4 separate regions of the Homo sapiens genome follow, and all the other regions are linked to region 3. The links come from fine-mapping of genetic effects on gene expression. A gene starts in region 3. Each other region holds a variant in brackets. All regions are shown on one strand. Distances are between the middles of the regions.

The links. PIP is the estimated chance that this variant, and not a neighbour inherited with it, causes the effect.
Region 1: its variant is fine-mapped to the expression of TTC7B in testis (GTEx, PIP above 0.99).
Region 2: its variant is fine-mapped to the expression of TTC7B in lung (TOPMed, PIP above 0.99). The same link has a PIP of 0.9 or more in monocytes.
Region 4: its variant is fine-mapped to the expression of TTC7B in monocytes after R848 (Quach 2016, PIP 0.95).

The regions. Positions count from the first base shown.
Region 1 is chr14:90,532,295-90,538,343 of GRCh38, reverse strand. TTC7B (tetratricopeptide repeat domain 7B) reads left to right here. Exons shown (of 20, transcript NM_001010854.2): 20 at 1-6,049. Among named protein-coding and RNA genes, the nearest start is that of LINC00642, 80 kb to the right of the region's middle. RefSeq lists enhancers at 3,808-4,638, 4,673-5,173. The variant T/C (reference allele first, on the strand shown) is at 4,085.
Region 2 is chr14:90,781,324-90,786,323 of GRCh38, reverse strand. TTC7B (tetratricopeptide repeat domain 7B) reads left to right here. Exons shown (of 20, transcript NM_001010854.2): 2 at 1-150. Among named protein-coding and RNA genes, the nearest start is that of TTC7B, 33 kb to the left of the region's middle. The variant C/T (reference allele first, on the strand shown) is at 2,038.
Region 3 is chr14:90,813,346-90,819,519 of GRCh38, reverse strand. It overlaps TTC7B (tetratricopeptide repeat domain 7B), which reads left to right and starts at 3,090. Exons shown (of 20, transcript NM_001010854.2): 1 at 3,090-3,345. The coding sequence starts at 3,225. RefSeq lists a silencer at 2,917-3,096.
Region 4 is chr14:90,628,285-90,633,284 of GRCh38, reverse strand. All of the region lies in intron 15 of TTC7B (tetratricopeptide repeat domain 7B), which reads left to right. Among named protein-coding and RNA genes, the nearest start is that of TTC7B-AS1, 12 kb to the left of the region's middle. The variant G/C (reference allele first, on the strand shown) is at 2,575.

The sequences.
Region 1 (6,049 bases), 280 kb after region 3:
TCATCCATCCGTCCATCCATCCATCCATCCATTCATCCGTCCACCCGTCCGTCCGTCCGTCCATCCATCCATCCATCCATCCATCCATCCATCCATCCATCCGTCCATCCATTAATAGATGAGGACGCAGACGCTAGACACTAAGACGGCAGGACACCTGCCTGGGGTCATTGTGGAATTACCTGGCAGAACTAAGATTGAGACAGGCCTGAGGGATAAACATTTCAAAAGTGCCCAGGTCTGCCCAGTGGAGGCATTTTTTGGACAGTGAGATGCAGGAGATGCCGCGTTTGATTCCAGGACTAGTGCTGACCCTAACTTAGGCAAGGCGTTCCTGTTCCCTGGTCTTAGTCTCCCCATCTGTGAAATTTCATTCATTCATTCACTCATTCATTCATCCAACAAATATCTATGGAATGCTCACAACATGCCAGATGCTTATTCCAGGCACTGAGGGCACAGCAATGTGTGACACAGATGCTGCATCCACTTAGGACCTACCTTCTGGTAGAAGGAAACAGACAGATGAGGAGTATGGCAGGTGGGGTGACGCATGGAGAAAGATGAAGCCAGGGAAGGGGTGTAGGGAGTGGCAGGGCTGCTGTTTAGAAGGTGACTAGGGAAGCCTCGCTAAGAAGGTGACATCTGGCTGAAGAAAGACAGGTAACCTGGGAGGAGGACATCTCAGGAAGCAGGAACAGCAGGTGCAAAGGCCCAGAGGGGAGGGGGATGGTCAGGTGGTGAAGGATGAGAAGAGGTCAGAAGTTTAACAGGGGCCACACAGGTGCGGCCTCGTGGACCATGCTAACAGTGTATATTAATTGCCTGTGGTTGCAGCAAATTACCATAAACTGGCTGGGCATGGTGGCTCCTGCCTGTAATCCCAGCACTTAGGGAGGCTGAGGCAGGAGAATCAGCTGAGGCCAGGAGTTCAAGACCAGCCTGGGCAACATGGTGAGACCCCCCCCCCATCTCTACAAAAAAAAAAAAATAGCCAGGTTTGGTGGCGTGCACCTGTAGTCCCAGCTGCTTGGGAGGCTGAGATGGGCTGATTGCTTGAGCCCAGGTGGTTGAGGCTGCAGTGAGTGATCACGCCACCGCAGTCCAGCCTGCATGAGAGAGCAAGACCCTATCTCTACAAATAAAATAAATTAAAAATTTTAAATGACCGCAAACTTAGCGTCTTAACACAAATTTATTCTCTTTGTTTTGGAGGTCAGAAGTCAAATCAAGCTTTCAGTGGGGCTGTGCTCCTTCCCCAGGCTCTGGAGGAGGACGGGTGTCCCCGTCTTCTCCAGCGGCTAGAGGCTTCCTGCGGCCTTGGCTCGTGGCCACCTCACGTCACCTTTCCTTCCTCTGCTCCGTCACTGCGTCACCTTTCTGCCTTTGACCTCCTGCCTCCCTCTAAGGACTCTGCTGGTTGCTCTGGGCCCCCTGGATAGTCCAGGGCCATTGCCCCACCTCGAGAGCCTTCGTTCAATCACATCTGCATCGCTCCATCTGTCATGGAAGGCAACATAGTCACAGGTTCCAGGGCTCGGGATGTGGACGTCTTTGAGGGGCAGGGGGAGCACGTTATTCTGCAGGCCGCAGCGTGGGAGCTGGGAGGCTGTCAGGCTCCTGCTGTCACACAGCGACCATGGTGCTTAGACCAAGGGGCGTGGAGGAAGTGGCGAGAGGCACTGGACTGTGAAGATTCTGAAGACAGAGCCAAGAGGGTTGCTCACACATGGAGCTGGGTGTGAGGGAGGGGAGACGCCAGGGATGAGGGTGAGGGTCTTGTCCTGAGCTACTGGAAGGATGGCGATGATGGCCAGGAAACAGGAAGAATAGGTTGGGGAGGAGAGGAGAAGGCAGGAGTCTGCTTTCAGGCAGGTTGAATACAAAATGCCTGTGGAGCCTCTGAGGGGGAGGCAGCTGGCTGGGCAGGAGCCCAGGCGAGAGCCCAAGATGAGGCGAGAGTGTGGGAGGTGTCAGGGATGCGGGGCTGGGAGCCATGGGCCTGACGGGGCCACTTCGGGACAAGCATAGACAAAGAGGAAGAGGTCAGGGCTGAGCTCCGGGGCTGGCGGGGTTTACAGGCTGGGAAATGAAGAGATCAGGAAAGAAGGCGCAGGAGCAGCTGCAAGGGAGGCGGAGAGCAGGCAGGGTGAGCTTCCTGGAGGAGGTGGGTGGGCTCTCTCAATGCCTGGAGACCCCGTCAGGGTGGCCTGAGAGCTGACCGTGGGCCTGGTGGTGTGCAGGTTGGCAGTGACCTTGACCAGAGCCATGCTGGGGATGCAGTTTTGCTCCCCCAGATTCATAGGGTGGAGCCCCCGCCCCTGTGTGACTATATTTGGAGATAGGCCCCTTAAGGAAGTAATTCAGGTGAAGTGAGGTCATCAGGAGGGGCCCTGGCCCAGTAGGATTGGCGTCCTCACCAGAAGAAACTCTAAAGTGCAAGTGAGCTCACGCTCAGCCACGCCAGGACACACGGAGAAGGCGGCCACCCGCAAGCCAGGAGGGAGCCTCACAGGAACCCAGATGGGCTGGAACCTTTGCTTTGTTCTTTGAACCTCCAGGACTGTGAGAAATTAAGTTCATTGTTGAAGCCACCTGTCTGTGGCGGTTTTCTTACGGCAGCCCAAGCTGACTAAGGTGGGGTCAAGCCAGGTTGGAGTGGGCTCAAGGGGGAGGAAAAGGTGAAGTCTCTTTCAAGAGCGTAGCTGCAGAGGGGAGCTGAGAACACAGGTTAGGAGTCCGGTGGGGAAGGGGCCGTGTTGAGTGTTGAAGGCGGCCTCGCTGAGCACCTTGTGTTTCCAGCAGGGCAGGCGTGAGGAAGGAGAGAGGGAAGCTGAGGGGGGCTGCCTTGGCTGGGGGCCTGGTGGTTCCCCAGAGCAGCAGCAGCAGGGAGGCAGAGGCCTGGGTACCCCCAAGCCAGGGAGCCCTGGGGACGGGGCACCCACTCCTCAGTGAGCAGGGAGCCAACTTCGGGCAGGGTGGGGTGGCGAATGGACCAGGAAGGGAAGGAGGAGGCAGAGGAGGGAGGAGGCCCTTCTTTGAAGGAGCCGCCCCACTCAGCCAAGAGGATCTCAGGACAGAGCCAGGCTGGGGGCCTGGGCAGGTGTGGCCGGGGCAGGCCACTTCCCATCCCCAGCCCCATTTGGGATCCATGGGCTCGTCTGTCTGTCTCTCTGCCTCCTTCCAGGTCCTGGGCCCTGGGCTGTGGCCAGGGCTCTGCTCACCCTCAGGGCTGCGTGGGGACCTCCCTCGGTGGGGAAAGGAGGGAACCAAGGCCTCCCGTTATCCTCCATGCCCCCTACCTGTGGTCATGGCCTGGGGGAGGTGCATGCTCGTGCACAGGTGGGCGTGTCTGTGATCACATGGAGCAACCCAGACTCCTCCAGATGGCCCCACGCATCTCCCCGGCGGCCACACAGTCATCATTGCGGGCCCAGACTCTCTGCCTGCAGGAAGTCCCCCCTTTGCAGGCACCCTCCCCATCATCCTTGGAGTTCTCCACGTCTGCCCTGTCCGTGCTGGGCCTGTCACCAGCCTGTCACCTGCTGCCCCAGCCCCAGCCCAGGTCCCTGCAGCACAGCCGGCTCCAGGCTGGAATGGGTGACCCGGCCCTACTGAAGGAATTTCAGGGCAGGGTCAGCCACTCTGGCCACTGTCTCCCTCCAATGCCCCCATACCCTCCCAGCGCTCGGCCCCTGCCACTCGGCCCCCTCTCTCCATATCGCCACCTTCTCATTCCTGCTCCTCCCCCACCACCTCTCAAGGCCGACAGGGTGGGCATTGCCCAGTGAGGGGACACCACTCATATTGAAGTTCTGTAAACTGTGTCTTGGGCACTGTACCAGGTGGCTGCTCCCATCCCTCCCCTAGCGTCTGCTTGCCCTGTCCATCCTGCCTACTCCAGAAGCAGCCACACACTTGACCATAAGCCTTTGAGGCCTGGCCGGAGTCCTCCGGGGGAGGCGGGCAGTAGCAGCCGCACTGGGCCTGAGGACCCCACACAGGAAAATGGGCCGAGCCCCAGGGCTGAGCCTTAGGGCTGCGGCCGTTCCCGCCACTAACATTCCTCCCACACTTGTGGTCA[T/C]GCATTTCCTGCTGCCCCTGCCCACGCTGCAGCCAGATAGGAACAGAAAAAGGACATCCTGCACCATTTCAGACAGGAATGTGCTCCTCCTGAAGGTCTTTTGGGGGCCAGGCTGAGGCCCCCCCTCAAGGTCACACCGTGGGGGACCCACTCCAGCTCTGCACCTGCTGGGGGTGATCCTCACTGTGCCACTGTCCCTCCCTGGACTCAGAATCAGATGAGGACAGTCACCTCTGCCCAGCCTGCCTTCTGGGCTGAGATGTGAGTCTGCAGGCAGCTGTCAGAGGTGGTGTGTGCCAGGTAGGGGACACGAGGGCTACCGCCCCTCAGGACCACCACACAGGGCCTCAGGGCCAGGCCAGCAGGCAGGACTCCTCCTGGACACTCAAGCCCTGAGTGGGGCTGACTATGGAGAGGTGGCAGGAAGGTGGTGGGGGATCTTCTGCAGGTCTGCCTGGAGCCAGCAGCTCCCGCTGACCATCCGGGCCACCCACAGCCCCCACCACCCTCCTCGTCTCCCTCATCTTCTGCTGTTTGGCCCTTGACCCCCTGAGGACAATAGGGTTTCCTGGTGACCACTGGGCTGTGGGTCACACAGATCTGGCTGGAATCCCAGTTCTGCCTGGCCGTGTCACCTCTGATGGGGAAGCACTCTGTCTCCTCATCTCTATGGTCGGGGAGTAACTTCCCTTACGGGCTTTTGGGGATATTAACAGAGGTCAACCTGGACAGGGCATGGGGCCCCCGGGGTGCACCATAAAGTCTTTCCTTCTTTCTTCTATCCTCAGGCGAGGGGTGAGTGGCTGCTGGGACGTGCTGAGGGGTCCCTGAAGCAGGGCAGGAAGGGCAGAGCTAGCTGCAGCTGAGGCAGAGTCCGAGTCCCGCTCTGCATGGAGGAGGAGGTGAGGGGCCTGGTCAGCATGGGCATGGCTGGGGGCCTCTGTGACCGCCACCACTCTTGTCTTTGCCTCCTTGACCCCACAGGGTCATCCTCGGGCCCTGGGTCCAGCCAAGGCCTGAGGAGGGTCATGCATCCCTGTCCCACTTGGTCACAGCACAGGAGGCTCCCATCCGCCACTGCCTGAGGCGGTGCCTGTGGCCCAAGGGCTCGGGTTGTGGGCCTGCTGGGCTGGAGCCTGCATCGGGACCTGGCCACCTACTCTCCTAGGAGCCTTAGGTGAGTCACTAGTCCTCTCTGAGCCTCGGTTTCCTCATCTGTGAAATGGGGAGAACAAGGTGGTTGTAAAGATTCAGAGGGTGTGTAAAACACAAGCACATGGCCGAGCACAGCCCAGCCCTACCCCTGCATGGCTCCTCCCCCGGGCATGGCAGGAGGTCAGGGTTTCCAGCCTGAGCTTAGCCTGCCATTCAGCAGTACCCAGGAAGGCACAGCTACCAGGAAAATGACCTCCCCAAGCCCATGGAGGCTTCCTGAGCACCCAGCCCAGCCTGAACCTCCACCCACCCAGGTGGCAGTGAGGCCTTCCTGCCTGTGTTCAGCCACGGTGTATCAAGGACCCCTGGCCAGACACAGGTACCTGGGCTGGGGAGCTGGTGGTCTTATTGGGGACTGGGAAGACAGACCCCAAACAGAGGGGTAAACAAATAAGATAATTACCAGCTTGGCAGATGATTAGAGCAAATTTGAAGTGACAGGGGGAGGGTTACTTTAGATTGGCTGGTCGGGGACACCTCTGTAAGACAGTGACATTGAGTGACAAGAAGGTGCCCACCCTGGAGGACACTGGGCTTCTTCACCTTTAAGAGGGATGGTGAGCAGAAGCCCAAAAGCGTCAGGTTCTGCCACTTTGTACCAGATGACTAGGCCCAGCCAGTTTGCAAAAGGGCTGGCCCATCCTCACATTGGCCCATCCTCACATTGCCAGCAAGGACCAGACCATGTGAAGAGGGAAGAGCATCCTGTAATGTACAAATAGGGGATCAACTTTAAATTATCTCCAGAGT
Region 2 (5,000 bases), 33 kb after region 3:
ATGGCAGAGCTTCTCCTCGGGGAGTCGAAGCTGGAGCAGTACCTGAAGGAACACCCCCTGAGGCAGGGGGCCAGTCCCCGAGGCCCCAAGCCCCAGCTGACTGAGGTCCGCAAGCATCTGACCGCCGCCCTGGACCGAGGGAACCTTAAGGTACCATGGGCCTCTGGGCTGAGGCGACACTTCCTTTGGACAGTGTGGGGTTGAGAAGGGTGCCCAGGGTTGAGCCGGGTGACGTTTGGAGCTCACCTGCACACTGCCAGGGCTTGTCTTCTTAGAAGCGGGCCAGCTCCCAGTTGGGTGGATGTGCCAATCTCTAGGCTGGCTGACCACTGTGGGGGCTTCTGGGCCAATAGGGTCTCTCTGATGAGAGTCTTCAATGACACGTCATCTGCACAATGCCACTTATCTCTCAGACGCTTGAACTAAAGCTATCCGATATAACCCAGAGCTTAACCTGACATGTTACGCAGTTCTAGAAAAGAGAGAAGTTAATCAGAAGGATGCTCAGCGCACAGCTTCCTGCTCATCAATGTAAGAAGCCACTGTGGCCCAGAGCTGTGGGAGGTTCCATACTGGTGCCAGCAGGCCTGGCGTCACAGTTGGGAGGGGGCCAGGAACTTCCCCACGTCTCAGCAAGAACCCTCACCCTCAGGCACAAGGAATCTTAGGTGCTGCCCCCTATCTGTCCATTCTGTTTTCCGGTCTCATTACACCCAGGTTTCCATTCCCTCTCACGTGGCTTTCCTTCCTTTCTTCTTGGACTCCTCATCAGTTCCTTTTGCTTTTCATGGGGGTCATCTCCTCTTCCCGCCCTGCCCTTCTGCCTCCCAGGTGGCTCACACTCCCCTGGCTCTAGATGCTTCCCCTAGTTCAGATGGCTGTCTGTGGCCCGCTCCATGCTGCCTGTCTTCCCCAGGATGTATTTCCCACTGAGGACAGTCTTTGGTGAACTTCTGGAGCTCTGACTTCCGTTTCCTTTTAACTTTGATGACTTCTTTCTCATTTTTCTTCTCTTCCTGTCTCGGAATCCTCTGAGACTCCATTTTTGGTCTTTATTCTTGTTTGTGTGTGCACGCTTCCCCCCGGGAAGCCATGCTTTCTTTGGCTTTACATTTCATATCTGTACTGCAAACTCCAGCCTGCTCCCGACTTGCTGTGTGACCCCGGGGAGGTTACTCGCCTCTCTGCAGCTCAGTTTCTTTAGGTTTGAATGGGGTGGGCTCTTAAAGGGGTGAGCTTGGACCTTCCCGGCTCCTGCATGTTCTAAGCCTGTGAGCTTTCAATTTGAGCTGTTCCTCCTCTTGGTCATCTGGCCACCTCCTTGGCCCTGCTGCAATGGAGGGCCTGGGCAACCTTTGAGTAAGTTAGTATTGGTGTTGGTCAGTTGTGCAGCAACAGGCTTCTGGAAACCCTGATAGAGAGCTGCTTTCAAAATTGTCTCTGTGTATGTTGTATGCACGGGACACAGCTCCAGGCCGCTAGGAGGTGGCTGGAGAGCGTCATCTCAACACAGGGATCTTGCCCCAGGCCCCTAGGGGGTGGCTGGAGAGGTCAGCTCAGCATAGGGATCCCAGGTACTTAAAGACTCCCTGCTGCATTTGGGCTTCAAAAACCAGGTCTTCTCTTTCCCCATTCAGTTTCTCTGTAAGGGCCATGCCACACTTTGGTGTGTGGCAGATCACTTGAGGCCAGGAGTTCAATACCAGCCTGGCCAACATGGCGAAACCCCATCTCCATCTCATCCATCTCATATGTTTTTTTTTTTTCGAGATGGAGTCTGGCTCTGTCACCCAGGCTAGAGTGCAGTGGCGTGATCTTCGCTCACTGCAAGCTCTGCCTCCCGCGCTCATGCCATTCTCCTGCCTCAGCCTCCTGACTAGCTGGGACTACAGGCACCCGCCACCACGCCCGGCTAATTTTTTGTATTTTTAGTAGAGACAGGGTTTCACCGTGTTAGCCAGGATGGTCTCAATCTCCTCACCTCGTGATCCGCCCACCTCAGCCTCCCAAAGTGCTGGGATTACAGGCGTGAGCCAC[C/T]GCTCCCGGCCTCATCTCATATGTTCTTAACCGATGACATGATGACACAGGTGGACACAGGGGTAGGTCTTGATCTGGGGACACAGGTGGTAGGTCTTGATCAGCAGGAGAGAGTGAAGGGACAGCAGGCACATGGGCCACAGCTCACAGTGATGGCCAGCCAGACTCAAGTGTCCTGCTGGGAGGTGTGAGGGGAGAGATCTGGCTTGTTTCTTTCCCCCGTCTACCCGCCCCCCAACTTCATCTTGAAAAATTCACTTTTCATTTCACCAGGTGCTGATAGGTTTTGCTTTCCATCCTCTACAATGCAGTGTGGTAGTAAGCCCATTGAATTTATTTTATTTTTTATTTATTTATTTATTTTGAGACAGAGTGTTGTTCTGTCATCCAGACACCATCTTGGCTCACTGCAACCTCCACCTCCCAGGTTCAAGCAATTCTTATGCCTCAGCCTCCTGAGTAGCTGTGACTACAGCCGCATGCCACCACACCTGGCTAATTTTTGTATTTTTAATAGAGACGTGGTTTTACCATGTTGGCCAGGCTGGTCTCGAACTGCTGACCTCAGGTGATCTGCCTGCGTCGGCCTCCGAAAGTGCTGGGATTACAGGCCTGAGCCACTGCACCCAGCTGTTGAATTTAATTCAAGTTAAAATGCTTGAGTCTGAGTCCAGTTCTGGATTTATAAGCTGTGTGATCTTGGGACGTTACTTAACCTCTCTGAGCTTCATGTTTCTCAGCTGCAGGCCTACTTAACCCAGGATTGTTTTGAGGCTCAAATGGAGAAATTCTTTCAAAGCTGTATAGCACTAGATACACATCATTTCTTGCTATGTTATTAGTTCTACCTAGAGAATTTTTTTCTCCCATTGCTCTTTTTCACCTTCCTCCATCTTATAAAGAATGTTCCAAAGCCGTACATCTTTTGCATGGGTGTGCTGTCCTACTCACACCAACTAATGTGAAACTTTCTCTTTCCTTGAGCTTAAGTCCAGCTTGTCTTAAGTGAATTGAGGCTGGGAAGACCAGAGCCAGCCAGGCATGTAGTGGGATGGAAAGAGTCCTGGACTAGGAGTCAGGACATCTGGCTTGTGATTCAAGGCAAGAAAATGGTCCTTATTGTGAGCAAGGTGGCCCCTGACACTGTGTTGGGGCTGTTCTCCCACTGCCCAGGCAGCCGAGGCGCCCTGGCCAAGCTGTTTCCTGTACTTGGGTGGAGACTGGACTCGCCCAGGGAGGCTCTCCCAGTGTGTCCAAGCTGTGCCTCTAGGCTTGCAATTTTCTTCAAGCGTTTTCTCCACCTGGCTCTCCAGTTTGCTTTTGTTAACCTTTTTTTTTTTCCCTTTTGGTAAAATATACATAACTTACAACCTAACATTATAGCTCTTTGTAAGTGTACAGTGTAGTGGCGTTAAGTATATTACCATTGTCACTCAGCCGTCACCACCCTCCATCTCCAGGACTCTTTGCATCTTCCCAGAGCGAACCTCTTGTGATGTGTCCATTAATGCTAACTCCTCATTCCCCCTCCTCTTTCAATTCGCCTTTAATCCAACGGTTCTTAGAGGCTAGAAGCTTGGGGAAGGAGGGTAGACTTCCCAGAATGTCCTAGGAAATGTTTTCAAAATACCCAAGCCTGGCCTGTCCCCTACCTGGGTGGAGAACCCCTGTGGTGGATGCTTTTTTTTGAGACAGAGTCTCGCTCTGTCATCCAGGCTGGAGTGCAATGGCGTGATCTTGGCTCACTGCAACCTCCGCCTCCTGGGTTCAAGTGATTCTTGTGCCTTAGCCTCCTGAGTAGCTGGGATTACAGGTGTGCACCACCATGCCCCACTAATTTTTGTATTTTTAGTAGAGATGGGGTTTCACCATGTTGGCCAGGCTGGTCACGAACTTCTGGCGTCAAGTGATCTGCCTGCCTCGGCCTCCCAAAGTGCTGGGATTATAGGTGTGAGCCACCGCACTCGGCCTGGATGCTTTTTTTCTCTTTTCTGAGTCTGCTTTGATTTCTCTGTCTCCAGATGTAATTCTAATTCCTCTGGTGCCTCTCCCTTGGGCCACCCATAAACACTTTTGCTCCCATCAGTCCTGCTTGTCCACTGCACCATCCTTTCCAATGCTGCCTGATGTCCCTCCCTCTTCCAAGAAATGCCTGGAAGCCGACCACGCTGGCTGAGATAGCTGCTGTAACACGCTGTACCTGGCTACCTGGCCGTGTTGTCCACTCATCAAAGCTCTAGGTTACAGTATAAATAGTGCGGTTTCATGGTGTGCTTCTGTAAGCAAAAACCTCAGCTTTGAACCGCTTGGGCTCTGAGGAGAAGGTCTGGCCACAGAAGATAAATCTGTTTCCTTATATAGGTGGCAGGGTGGCCTGTTCTTTCCCTAGGTGCCGGAGGACGGGTCAGGGAGGAAGGCAATGATGAGGCTTTGGGGAGAGGGGGACTGGCCAGGCCAGCCTTGCTGACTGGGAGGAAGGGGGGCCCACAGAGAACTTCCAGCCCTTAGCCTCTAGGGAGGGTACCAGGTCACCTCAGTTTAGAAACTTCAATGGCTCAGTGAGAAACTTCGCCCTGGAAAGCAAGCAAGTCCTGATCTTCACATCCATTTGGGAAGGCTCTCCTTGGTTATTTGGGTTACAGGGTTGTGGTGCATCTCCAGTGCCATGGCCAGACCCACCAGGATGTCTGGCCGCTTCCTTTTCTGAGACAGGTGCTTGTATGTTTAACTTATGAAGCATTCCTTCCTTCCCAGCCGGCCCAGCCCAGCCACAGGCCTGATGAAGGGAGCCGCAGGGTTTTGTTTTGGTTTGGTTTTTGCAACAGCTTTATTGAAGTGTGATTCACATACCATACAACTCACCCATTCAGAGTGTCCACTTCAGTGATTTTTAGTATATTCATGAAGTTGTGCAACCATCACCACAATGAATTCTAGAACATTTTCATCACCTCCCAAAGAAA
Region 3 (6,174 bases):
GCCGACATGGCACTCTATTGGTGCACTGGCACTGTTTTTTTTTTTGAGATGGAGTCTTGCTCTGTCACCCAGGCTGGAGTGCAGTGGCATGATGGAGATGCAACCTCTACCTCATGGGTTCAAGCGATTCTCCTGCCTCAGCCTCCCGAGTAGCTGGGACTACAGGTGCCCACCACCATGCCCGGCTAATTTTTTTGTATTTTTAGTAGAGACAGGGTTTCACCATGTTAGCCAGAAAGGTCTCGATCTTCTGACCTCGTGATCCACCCAAACTGCTGGGATTACAGGCGTGAGCCACAGAGCCTGGCATGCTGGCACTGTTCTCTGTGCCCTACCTGTATTTCCTCATTTCCTCCTCAACGAGCTCCAGGGGGAGGTATCACAGCCAAGAAATGGAGGCCTGGGGATGTTAAATGCCATGGCCCAGGCAGCATCCGTCCTCATGAAGCCACCTTATCAGGTAGGGAGGCAGACAGGTGGCCCTCATCATTTACCTTCCAGTGTGGCAACTGAGGCAGTGTATGCGTTAGTCATGATTAAGACCCTGCCCCTTCCCAGAGGGAGATGGCAAGTGCTGTCACACAAGGTCTGTCAGATGTTGAGCAAGGCTGCCCAGTAACCTTTGGCCCGTGTCTGAAAGAAGGCACAGGAATCTGTCTCCTGGTCCAGATGGAGAACATTCCCAGCAAATCTGGAGAGGCAGACTGGAGTTGGGAGAACAGGAGGGTGTCAGGAGAGAGGAAACATCTCCTGTGGAGATTTCTTCTCCTTCCCTTCCTGCTCCCTCTTGGTGGGAGCTAAGGGCCAGGGCACTAAAGGGTCCCCTGTTGAAACTCTAACGTTCTAGTTCCCCTTTCCCTGGGCTGTTCACAGTGTCCAGGGCCTGTCAGCTCAACTTCCATCACCTTGGCAGTCCCTGAGGCACCTGAAAGTGATACTGGTCACATCAGAACACATCTCCTTATCTTTCCTCCTCACCTCTCTTAAATGTCTGTGATTCAGCCTCCTCATTGGTAAACTGAGGTCCACAGTGTGTGTTCTTCATCAACTCCGGTGGTGGGGGAGTTGTGGTGGGGATAAGAACCTGCGTGTGACTGCTCTTGGAAAGTTGGAGTAAGGGCACCCAGAAGGAATGACGACGACCCCTCAGTGCCTCCTTGTGACTGCGGGCGGGCTACGGAACCTTCCAGACTGACCGCTTCACTCTCAAATGCAGGACCCAGAATCCAACACTGCCACCACCACAGCTATTTCCCTGGCAGTATTCTCAACACTGCAGTCACAGTGATAGTCCAAAGTGTAGGTCTGATCATGCCACTCTTCCGTGAAAAGCCCTGCAGGGCTGCTCCATGTCACCAGAGTAAAAGTCAAAGTTTTTTTTTTTTTTTTTGAGACGGAGTCTCTCTCTGTTGCCCAGGCTGGAGTGCAGTGCTGCCATCTCAGCTCACTGCAAACTCCGCCTCCCGGGTTCACACCATTCTCCTGCCTCAGCCTCCCCAGCAGCTGGGACTACAGGCGCCTGCCACCACGCCCGGCTAATTTTTAAAAATATTTTTAGTAGAGACGGGTTTCACCATGTTAGCTAGGACGGTCTCGATCTTCTGACCTCGTGATCCGCCCACCTCGGCCTCCCAAAGTGCTGGGATTACAGGCGTGAGCCACCGTGCCCAGCCAAAAGCCAAGGTCTTATAATGGCCCACCAGGCACTACACAGAACTCCCCCCAACCTCTCAGAGTTCATCTCCTGCCTCGGCCCCTCTCCTTCGCTCCACCCAGCCCCTCTGGCCTCTGCCATTTCTCCATCCCACCCAGTGTGCTCTAACCCCAGAGCCTTCGCACTTGTGGTGTTCTCTGCCTGGGATACTCCTCCCCCAGAGATATCCTCATGGCTCCCCCTTAGTTTCTTCAAGTCTAATGCCACCTCCGTGAGGCCATCCCTGACTGCTCCATTTTAAATGGCAACACTTGCTCAGGCTGAAGTGCGTTCACTGCTCACTGCAGCCTCCACCTTCTGGGCTCAAGCAATCATCCTGCCTCAGCCTCCTGAGTAGCTGGGATTACAGGCATGAGCCACCCGCCTGTCCCAACTCTTTATGTTCCTCACTGAACCCTTCCCTGTTTCTTCAAATAGCCATTTTTACAGTCTAGTTTACTATTTTATTTTGCTTATTTTTCCCCCAAACTGGAATGTAAGCTCTCTCAAGCCAGGAATTTTGTTTTTTTAGCTCACAATTCTATCTCTGGCACCTAAAGCAGCGCCCAGCACATAGTAGGTGATCACTAGACAGTTGATTCACTGAGAGAACACAGAGGGACACCTCCCTAGGTCTCAGTCTAGGTGGCCAAGACAGGAGGCCCCACCAGTGACTGTGCCTTCCCCTCAGGGGGTCCGAGAGCTGGCGTGTGAGAGTGGCAGCCCCTGCCTGGCTCCGCTCAGCCATCTAGGGCACCCCTGGCAGGTGCTGTGCCTTGCCTGGGATGGAGGAGTCTCCGTCCACCTCTGGCTGGGTAGGGGCTAAGGCTGCGGGGCAGAGGGGCATCTGCTAAGGGGCACAGGCCAACCGGGCCCCAGGGAACCGCTGGCCACCTGAGATGGCAGGACAAACTCGGGCAGGCCTCCCCCCACCCCTCACACCTGGCTCACTGGTCCCACCGGGCGGTGACCTTCCCCAGGGTCACTGCCCTTTCTTGGCCCTACTCCTGGGGATCCAACCCGCTCCCAGGCTGTCGCTAGCTCCCTCCCGATCCTCTCCCTCCCCTTCATCCTGCCCAGACCCCTACCCCACCAGACCCCTCACCCGCCCTTGGTCAGATCTCTCTCCTACCCCGCTCCCCCACCCCCATCCCCACTTCCCCTCGGTCTTCACCCCGCCCCAGACACCCCCAGTCCCTCTCCCTGTCCTCCATGCCCACCCCGCCTTTCCTCCCTCGGGCCCCTGTCTCCCGCCCTAGCCCCCGCCCCTGCCCCAGCCCTGGCTCCGGCCCCGGTCAGTGCTGCGGCTCCGGCCCTGGCCGGCAGGGGCCGCTCCTCGCGGCGCCCGGGGCCCCGCCGCGCCCGCCGCCGCCGCCCGCCTCCCCGCCCCTTCCCCAGCCGGCGCTCCCGTTACGCCGCGGAGCCGGGAGCCGGAGCCCGAGCCCGCGGCGGCGGCGGGAGGCGGCGAGGGGGCGCCGCGGCGGCGGCGGTGGGGCCTGCGGGGCGGGCGGCCGGGCCCGGCCAGGCCGCGATGGCGACCAAGAAGGCAGGCTCGCGGCTGGAGACGGAGATCGAGCGCTGCCGCTCCGAGTGCCAGTGGGAGCGGATCCCTGAGCTCGTCAAGCAGCTGTCGGCCAAGCTCATCGCCAACGGTACGCTCCGGGCGCGCCGGCCTGGGCTGCGGGGGGCGCCGCGGCCTCCGCGGGAACGGGCCCCCGAGGCGCGGCCGGGCGCGGGGCGCGGGCAGGGGCGCGGCCGGGCCGCGAGGGAGCTGCGGCCCAGGGGATGTGCGCGGGACCGGGGCCTGGGGGAGCCCGGGTGCCCCGGAGTCACGCGGTGTGGGGGCCCGGGGGGGCGCCAGGGGCTGTCCCGGCGCCTGGGGTTCAAGCGTGCAGGGCGGGCTTCTGCGGAGTCTGGGGTGTCCGGGGGTCTCAGCGAGTCCGCTGCTCCACTGGGACCACAGGAGGTCAGGGGCCGGCCTGGGGCTTCCAAGAAGTTGGAGGTGATGGGGTGAGGGGGTCCCTCAGGACATGGGTGAAGTCCACAGTGTGTGTATGGTGTGCTCAGGGAATCAGGATGTGTTTATGGGGTCTTGAGAATGGGGTGTTGTACATAGACCCCTGGGGAATCTGGTTTGTAAACATATGGTGTTTAAGGGGTTCTGGGTGGAAGCGCAGACTCGAGGTGTGTGGGGTGGTGGTAGAAAGCAGGCTGGGATGTGCGTCCTGGCGTTCGGAGAAGTAGCATCAAGGCTGCCGACCTAGAGAGGTCAGGGTTGGGAATAGAGGAGAAATAGAGTCAGGGGGACCTGGAGGGAGAATATTGTGGAGCGAGATGGGAATGTGGTTGAAGAATGTCGGGAGATGGAGTTGGGTGGGTGAGGGGTTGGTGCCTGGGCCAGAAGGGGGTCTGAGGCAGCCTCTGAGTAGGAGCCTGGTGCCTGGAGTTGGTTCATGACCCCTTTAACTGGATTGGTTCTTGTACCCAATCAAATAAAATTGCATCCAGAATCCCATTCCAGTGCACAGCTCCACGTGGCCTTATTTGTTTTGGAAGCGAGTATCTTTAATATTTGCTTGTCTTTTAGTACCCGCCTAAAGCGCAGGCACCAGCACACCGTGGCCAGAGGGCAGAGGGTTTGTCTCATTTCATCCTGGGCTTCCCCAGGCCCAGTGAGCACATGTTGGCTGAACAAATGAATGAAAGAGTGAATGAATGGATGGCGGGGCTGCTCTAAGAAAGGACATCTGCACTATTTTCAACCTTCTCACTTCAGACTACCCAGAAAGGAGAGGGATGTCAGGTGTCCTCCTGGAGGGTGGTTTATGTTTGTGTCCTATGGTATTAGTGCCTGGAAATTAGAACTTGGTTTTGCGCACTCTCAATGATGGATGCATGCTGTGGGCAGGTACCTTCTGGGTGAACGCAGGTGCCATGGTGTGTCAGGGGCATGGAGATAGCACCGACCCTACACGGGCTCCACTTGGTGGAAAATGTGGACCCTTCTCAGTTATGTCAGCCTTTGAGGAGATGGTGTTCAGTGCCCTGGGCCCCAGAGGCAGCTTGCCTTTGCCCTCCGTGTCGGGCTCACCTGCTTCTCCGCTTACCTGCAGCATTTTCTCTTTTCCTCTCGGAGTTGCACAGTCCTGGGTCTACTTTGTGGCTTCCCAGCGGTGTAGGCATAATGACACCTTCTGTGCAGGTTGATTTTAGGATTAAATGGGTTTATTTGTGAGCCTCCTGGTCTTTTTTCTTCTGAATCCACTTGTTTCCTGCTGTCTTTGCTTATTCATTCACCCAATATTTGCGTGCCCACCTGTGCCAGTCACAGAACAGTGGTGAACAGCACTGACCAAGCCCCTGCCCTTATGCCCTCACCCTGCTCTCAGGAGGCAGGTGATAAGCAAATATGGAAATAAATAAACAGCACAGCTTCAGATAGTGAGAAGTGATTGAAACAAAACAGATGAGTTAATGTGATTGAGAATGACAGGCAGATGAAGGGGGACTCAAGCTATGATGGTCCCTGGAATGAGAGGGTAGATGGGTTTTTGGTGGCCTGGGCCCTTCCTATTCACCTTCATGGCCCCCGAAAGGCTTAGCTCTCTTCCCAGGGGCTGCTCCCAATGTCCTAAGATGCAGTCATGAGTGGGGCTTGGGGATCGGGGTTTGCGGGGGCACTGTGGTCCATGGGTCTGTGTGCAAGTTCAGTTTGGGGAAACTCATGGGACATAGATTTTTGTCCTAGAGACTCACATGGTGAGTGGTAGCCATTGATGGCAAAAAGTTACCCGGACTTGAAAAGATCAGACAGAGTGAGTGCTCAGGAAAATAAAACGATGAAGCCAAGAAAAAGATGAAACTAAACTAGAATGATTGTGGCTCTCCTTTGGTGTTTGCAAGAGGGGCCTTCCCTCCGTTTGACTGGTGAGGCCTTCCCACTCTCGGGCTGGTAGAGGGACTTCTTCCTGGCTTTTGGGGGCACCGGCTCCCCCATAGATTCTCGGGTGCATGAGCACAAGTTCTGGGCAGATTTTGCAAAATCCTGAAGTTAAAGCATCTTCTGCTTAGAATAAGGAAAGCAAGTGAATGTCACGTTTGTCACACTAAGACAGTTACCATGAAAACAACCACAGGCGAAAAAAAAAAAAAAAGAATACAGTGTTTGGAGCCAGCCAGATGGGGGACTGATTCTTGTGACCTTGGCCACTTCTTGACTTTGTGACATTGGCCAAATCACTTAACCACTCTGAGCCTCAGTTTTCTCATTTTAGAACGGGATTTAAATGACTTACCTTGCAGGGGTTGTTATGAGGGTTAAAGTAGCTAATGTCTCTCAGGGCCAGCCACTCATTCCTTCCTTCCTTCCACAAAGATTGAGTACCTGCTCTGTGCTAGCCACTGTTTTAGGCACTGGAAATACACTGGTAAACAAAACAGACAAAAATGGCAAAAATCTCAGCCCTTATGAAACTCACATC
Region 4 (5,000 bases), 190 kb after region 3:
ATGTGCTCCCAGAGAGGTTATCAAATCAATAGCACACTTAAGAAAACATCAGATGTCACCACAAAGCAAACCTCTCAAGATTACTAATATAAGTATGTGATCATGATGCTGTATGCACAAGTGTTTGAAGTGTTTTCTCTGACCCATAACTATAAGACATCAGATGATATTGAGACACACCCTCAGTCACCTGATTGGAGGCACAGAGGTCTTCTAGAACACTTCTGTCCGTGGCCTCAGCTCTTATACATGTCAACACAGATTTTATCAGACAGTCACATTTCTTTTTACATCAGTGGAAACTAACTGTATGGGAAGAAGTGAACATATATAACATTCATTCATTTAATCAGTCATTCTTTCAGCATTAGTAACCACTAATGTTTATACCCCGCATTGTGACAGGCACTCTTAATAACACTTTACACATTTTTAACTAATCCTTGCAAGAACTATCTATGGTGGGTAGTTTTGTTATTATTTTCATTTTGTAGATAAGGAAACTGAGGCACAGAGAATTTAAGTAATTTGTCCAAGATTATACACCTGGAAAAAGGCAGAGCCATGATTTCAACCCAGGCAATCTGGCCTCGCCATCTGTGCTCGTAACCACGAACTGACTTTGAAGCATTGAGTTTCTACCACATGCCAGGGGCCATGCTAGATGTTGGGGATTACTGCTGTGAACAAGTCAGTTTCTGCTCCATTAGAGCTTATAACCCAGATGAGCAGGAGTTTTATGCTATCTCCCCTGTTAACCTGGAATCAAAAAACTAGGAAACATAGTTATAATCATTCTTTACTTGAGTGGAGTATACATATAATTTTTTTTTAAATCATTACTTGGCAAGTGAGACTAATGTTTCTTTTTCACTCGGGCACACACACACATACTCTCAGAGAAGTTCAGTTTAAGTTGAAACATCATATTGAATAATGTTTTGATTTAGTGATTAAAACAATTTTGGTGATTTAAATTGACCAGGGGTTGTGGGCAAATTTTTTGCCTGAGCTGAGTGATGAAGCAATGAACATGCCCACTAAATTAGCATTTGATAAGAAGTTAGACCACAAGGAAAGAGGCTGTTCATCTCATTAAACTAGAGAAATGATCCACTGATACCTGAAGGATGTCTGGAAGGAGTGAGCACACAGTAACCACCCCAGGGATACCAGTAGGGAGGGAGGCCTTTGGACACAGGCGAGTTGGTGGCAGCCTGGAAGACAACAGGGGTCACAATGGAGTGGGACTTAGTGGTGCAGTAGCTTATTTAAAATCAACTTTCCACAACCCTAACAAAACGAAACAAAACCCCATCCCCTTTAGGAAATGGGCAAAGGAAAGGAGTTGCATAGATGTTTCTCCAAAGAAGATATACAAATAGCCAATAAGCACATGAAAAGAGTCTCTACATCACTAACCATTAGGGAAATGCAAATCAAAACCACAATGAGATACCACTTCATACCCAGTAGGATGGATTTTATCAAAAAAACAAAGTCACAAGTGTTGACAAGGATGTAGAGAAATAGGAACCCTTGTGCATTGCTAGTGGGAATATAAAATGGTGCAGACTCAGGCTGGGCAGGGTGGCTCATGCCTGTAATCCCAGCACTTTGGGAGGCTGAGATGGGCAGATCACAAAGTCAGGAGTTCGAGACCAGCTTGGCCAACAAAGTGAAACCCCGTCTCTACTAAAAATAAAAAATTAGCCGGGTGTGGTAACATGTGCCTGTAGTCTCAGCTTCTCGGGTGGCTAAGGCAGAAGAATCGCTTGAACCTGGGAGGCGGAGGTTTCAGTGAGTTGAGACCATGCCACTGTACTCCAGCCTGGGTGACAGAGCGAGAATCTGTCTCAAAAAAAAAAAAAAAAAATTGGTGCAGACGCTATGGAAAACAGTATGGTGGTTCCTCAAAACATTAAAAATAGAATTATCATGTGATCCAGCAGTCCCACTTCTGGGTGTCTGCCCAAAAGAATTGAAAACAGGGACTTGAACAGATCTATACACCCGTGTTCACAGCAGCATAATTCTCAATAGCCAAAAGGTGGGAACAAGCCAAGTGCCTATCAATGAATGAATGGTTAAACAAAATGAGGTTTACACATATAATGGAATATTTTATTCAGCCTTAAGAAGGAAGGACATGGCTGGGTGCAGTGGCTCACGCCTGTAATCCCAACACTTTGGGAGGCCAAGGCAGGCAGATCACAAGGTCAGGAGATCGAGACCATCCTAGCTAACACAGTGAAACCCCGTCTCTACTAAAAATACAAAAAATTAGCTGGGCGTGGTGGCAGGCGCCTGTAATCCCAGCTACTCGGGAGGCTGAGGCAGGAGAATGGCGTGAAGCCAGGAGGCAGAGCTTGCAGTGAGCCGAGATCATGCCACTGCACTCCAGCCTGGGCAATAGAGTGAGACTCCATCTCAAAAAAAAAAAAAACAAAAAACAAGATAGAAGGACATTCTGATGGATGTACCAACATAGATGAAAATTGAGGACATTATGCTAAGTGCAATAAGCCAGTCACAAAAGGACAAATAATGTGTGACTCTACTCATATGAGGTAC[G/C]TGGAGTAGTCAAACTCATAGAGACAGAAAGTAGAATGGTGGTTGCCAGGGCTGGGAGGGGGAATGGGAAGCTATTGTTCAGTGGGTGCGGTTTCAGTTTTGCAACACGAATAGAGTACTGGAAATGGAGGCTGGTGATGGTTGCACAACAGTGTGAATGTACACAATGCCACTAAACTGTACGCTTAAAAATAGCTCATTAGCAAATTTTATGTTACGTATATTTTACTACATTTTAAAGAAACGAAACTTTCTGAGCTCCCTTTGTTAACATGTGTGGCTGCAGGAGGGTTTCCAGCATTCGTAGATGACAAGGGACCCTTCTGCTCTTGAGATTCTCCGGCTCTGCATCACGGAGCCAATGTTCTTCTGGGATGGACTTGCTGAGCCACGGAAGCAGCCTCCCAGCACCCCACGCGCATGGATGTCCTCTTTCTGTGAGGCTTTGGCTCTGTGCTGTTGCCTTCACTAAACATAGATGCTTGTCAAGAGGGACAAAATCCCCCAAATGCAATGAAAAATTGTCTGGAAACTGAAGATTTGGTTTATGAGGCAAAAGTAGAAGAACTGGAAGAGGGGAAATGGCAGGAAAATGTATTTGAAGCCACGTTTGTTTATGAGAGGATCCTCCTTTCTCCGGGGTTGGAGACAGCCATGTCCTGAGATTAGGAGTGGTGCTGGCCCAAACCCCTCCCCCCATTTTCACAACCAGTACTAGGCTTGCATATGACTGGTGTCCCCCAGTTTAAATCCTCATGGGATATTCTGCTTCCTTTCCAGGGAAGTTCCCTTTTCTAGTTTTTTTTCCAAAGATGCTGGAGAACCAGCCTTCAGGGCATCCCAGCCTCCCTGTCAGCCACAGGAGAGAGCACTGGCTGACCGCCGGGGGCTCAGAAAGCCGAGCAGCTGGGAGAGGCGAGGCTGGGCCAGGAGGGGCACCATGGTGAGGCCCACACCAAAGCCACTCCCCGCGAGTCATGGCATCCAGAAGGTTTATTTATTTTTGTGCTTTTCTTTCCAAGATCTCCAAGTTCTCCCCATATCTCATTCAACAATTCAGAGTATGGGAGTGTCCTCTTGAGACTTCTTGCAGGTGTTTCCTGGAAACCTCTGGCTCCCCAGCACCTGGCCCCGGGCTGCCTGCTACAAACATTAATACCTGTCTGTGCAATGCATGCTTGAAACTTTGTCCGTGCAGAGTAGCCTGGTAGCTCTTCGTTCATAGCTAAGCTTGTGTCTGCCTGTGTTTCATCTGTTATCCATTTTGATTTCTACTCTGCCAAGTTTCACTGTCTGATAAAATGATGGCCATACTTTCTGCAAATGGGCGGTATAAGGTGCTTGCTGGTTACCCAGCCAGCTGTGAAAAAAAATCAGATATTCCAAACACAATTGAATTCTAGTTCATTTGTAATGGTTGCATTTTAAAGTAAGGAAAGTTTACTATTTAAAAAAAAAGAAAAAAAAAGGAACCTGAGAACAGGGAAGAGAAATGAGAGAATCTCCAAATTTATCCTATAAGTATTCTTGTGGGGATCCTGAGCTGAAAACAACTGGGGAGAATTGATAAGCCACCTTCAGATGATCAGATTCACTGTCCTTTGAACACCTCCCCCAGTTCATGGGTAGAGAGCGCCTGCTTTCAGCCAGGCATGGTGCCAGGCTCAGGAGGGCCAAGGCCGGAGATGGCACCATCCCAGTCTTCACGCAGCACACAGTGAGATGTGGAGGCAGAATCACGCTGGAGCGTGCTATGCCTCCGAAGAATCGCTCACCTTCAGGGAGGAGGGCTGTCTGTTTCTGAGCTCTAGGCCAGGCATGGACAAAAGTGCTGCCTTCAGTGTCCCTTGGCACAGTGGAATCAAGCCATGCGAAACCAAACAGCCCCTCATGGAAACACACAGGAAATGAAGGCAGAGAAGGCAGGAAATGTAAAACAGGCCAGGATTCACAGGAGCAGCTGATTGATGCAAGGATGCGCGGTCCCATGTGGCCCTGGAGCCCAGAGAGACACATCATCCACCTCTGGTCCTGGAGAGCCGCTTGAGCTTCCCAGTGCCCTGCCAGGCCCCTTCCTTCCTAGTTCCCTCCTGACTGTGCAGAAGGCGCCATTTCTATATCACAGAGCTTCATGGATCAAGTCCATATCACACTGTGGCCCAGGCCCTTCCCCTTCTAGGTCTAGGTGGTGGGATTCCCATTCTTCTGGCATCTGCCGTTGTCTGCTGAACTGGGTCCCAATGTCTCATTTCTTCACTGTGCTCCCCTCCTCAAACTGGGTCATGTGGAGAAATCAGGGCCTTGGGGGCTCAGCCAGAAATAAAGACCGAGAGATCCTCCAGAGAGAAGGTCCTCTAGGAGAGGAAGGGTGGCAGAACAGAAGAGGCCCGGGACTTGCTTCCCAAATGTCAGAAATTACCAAAAAG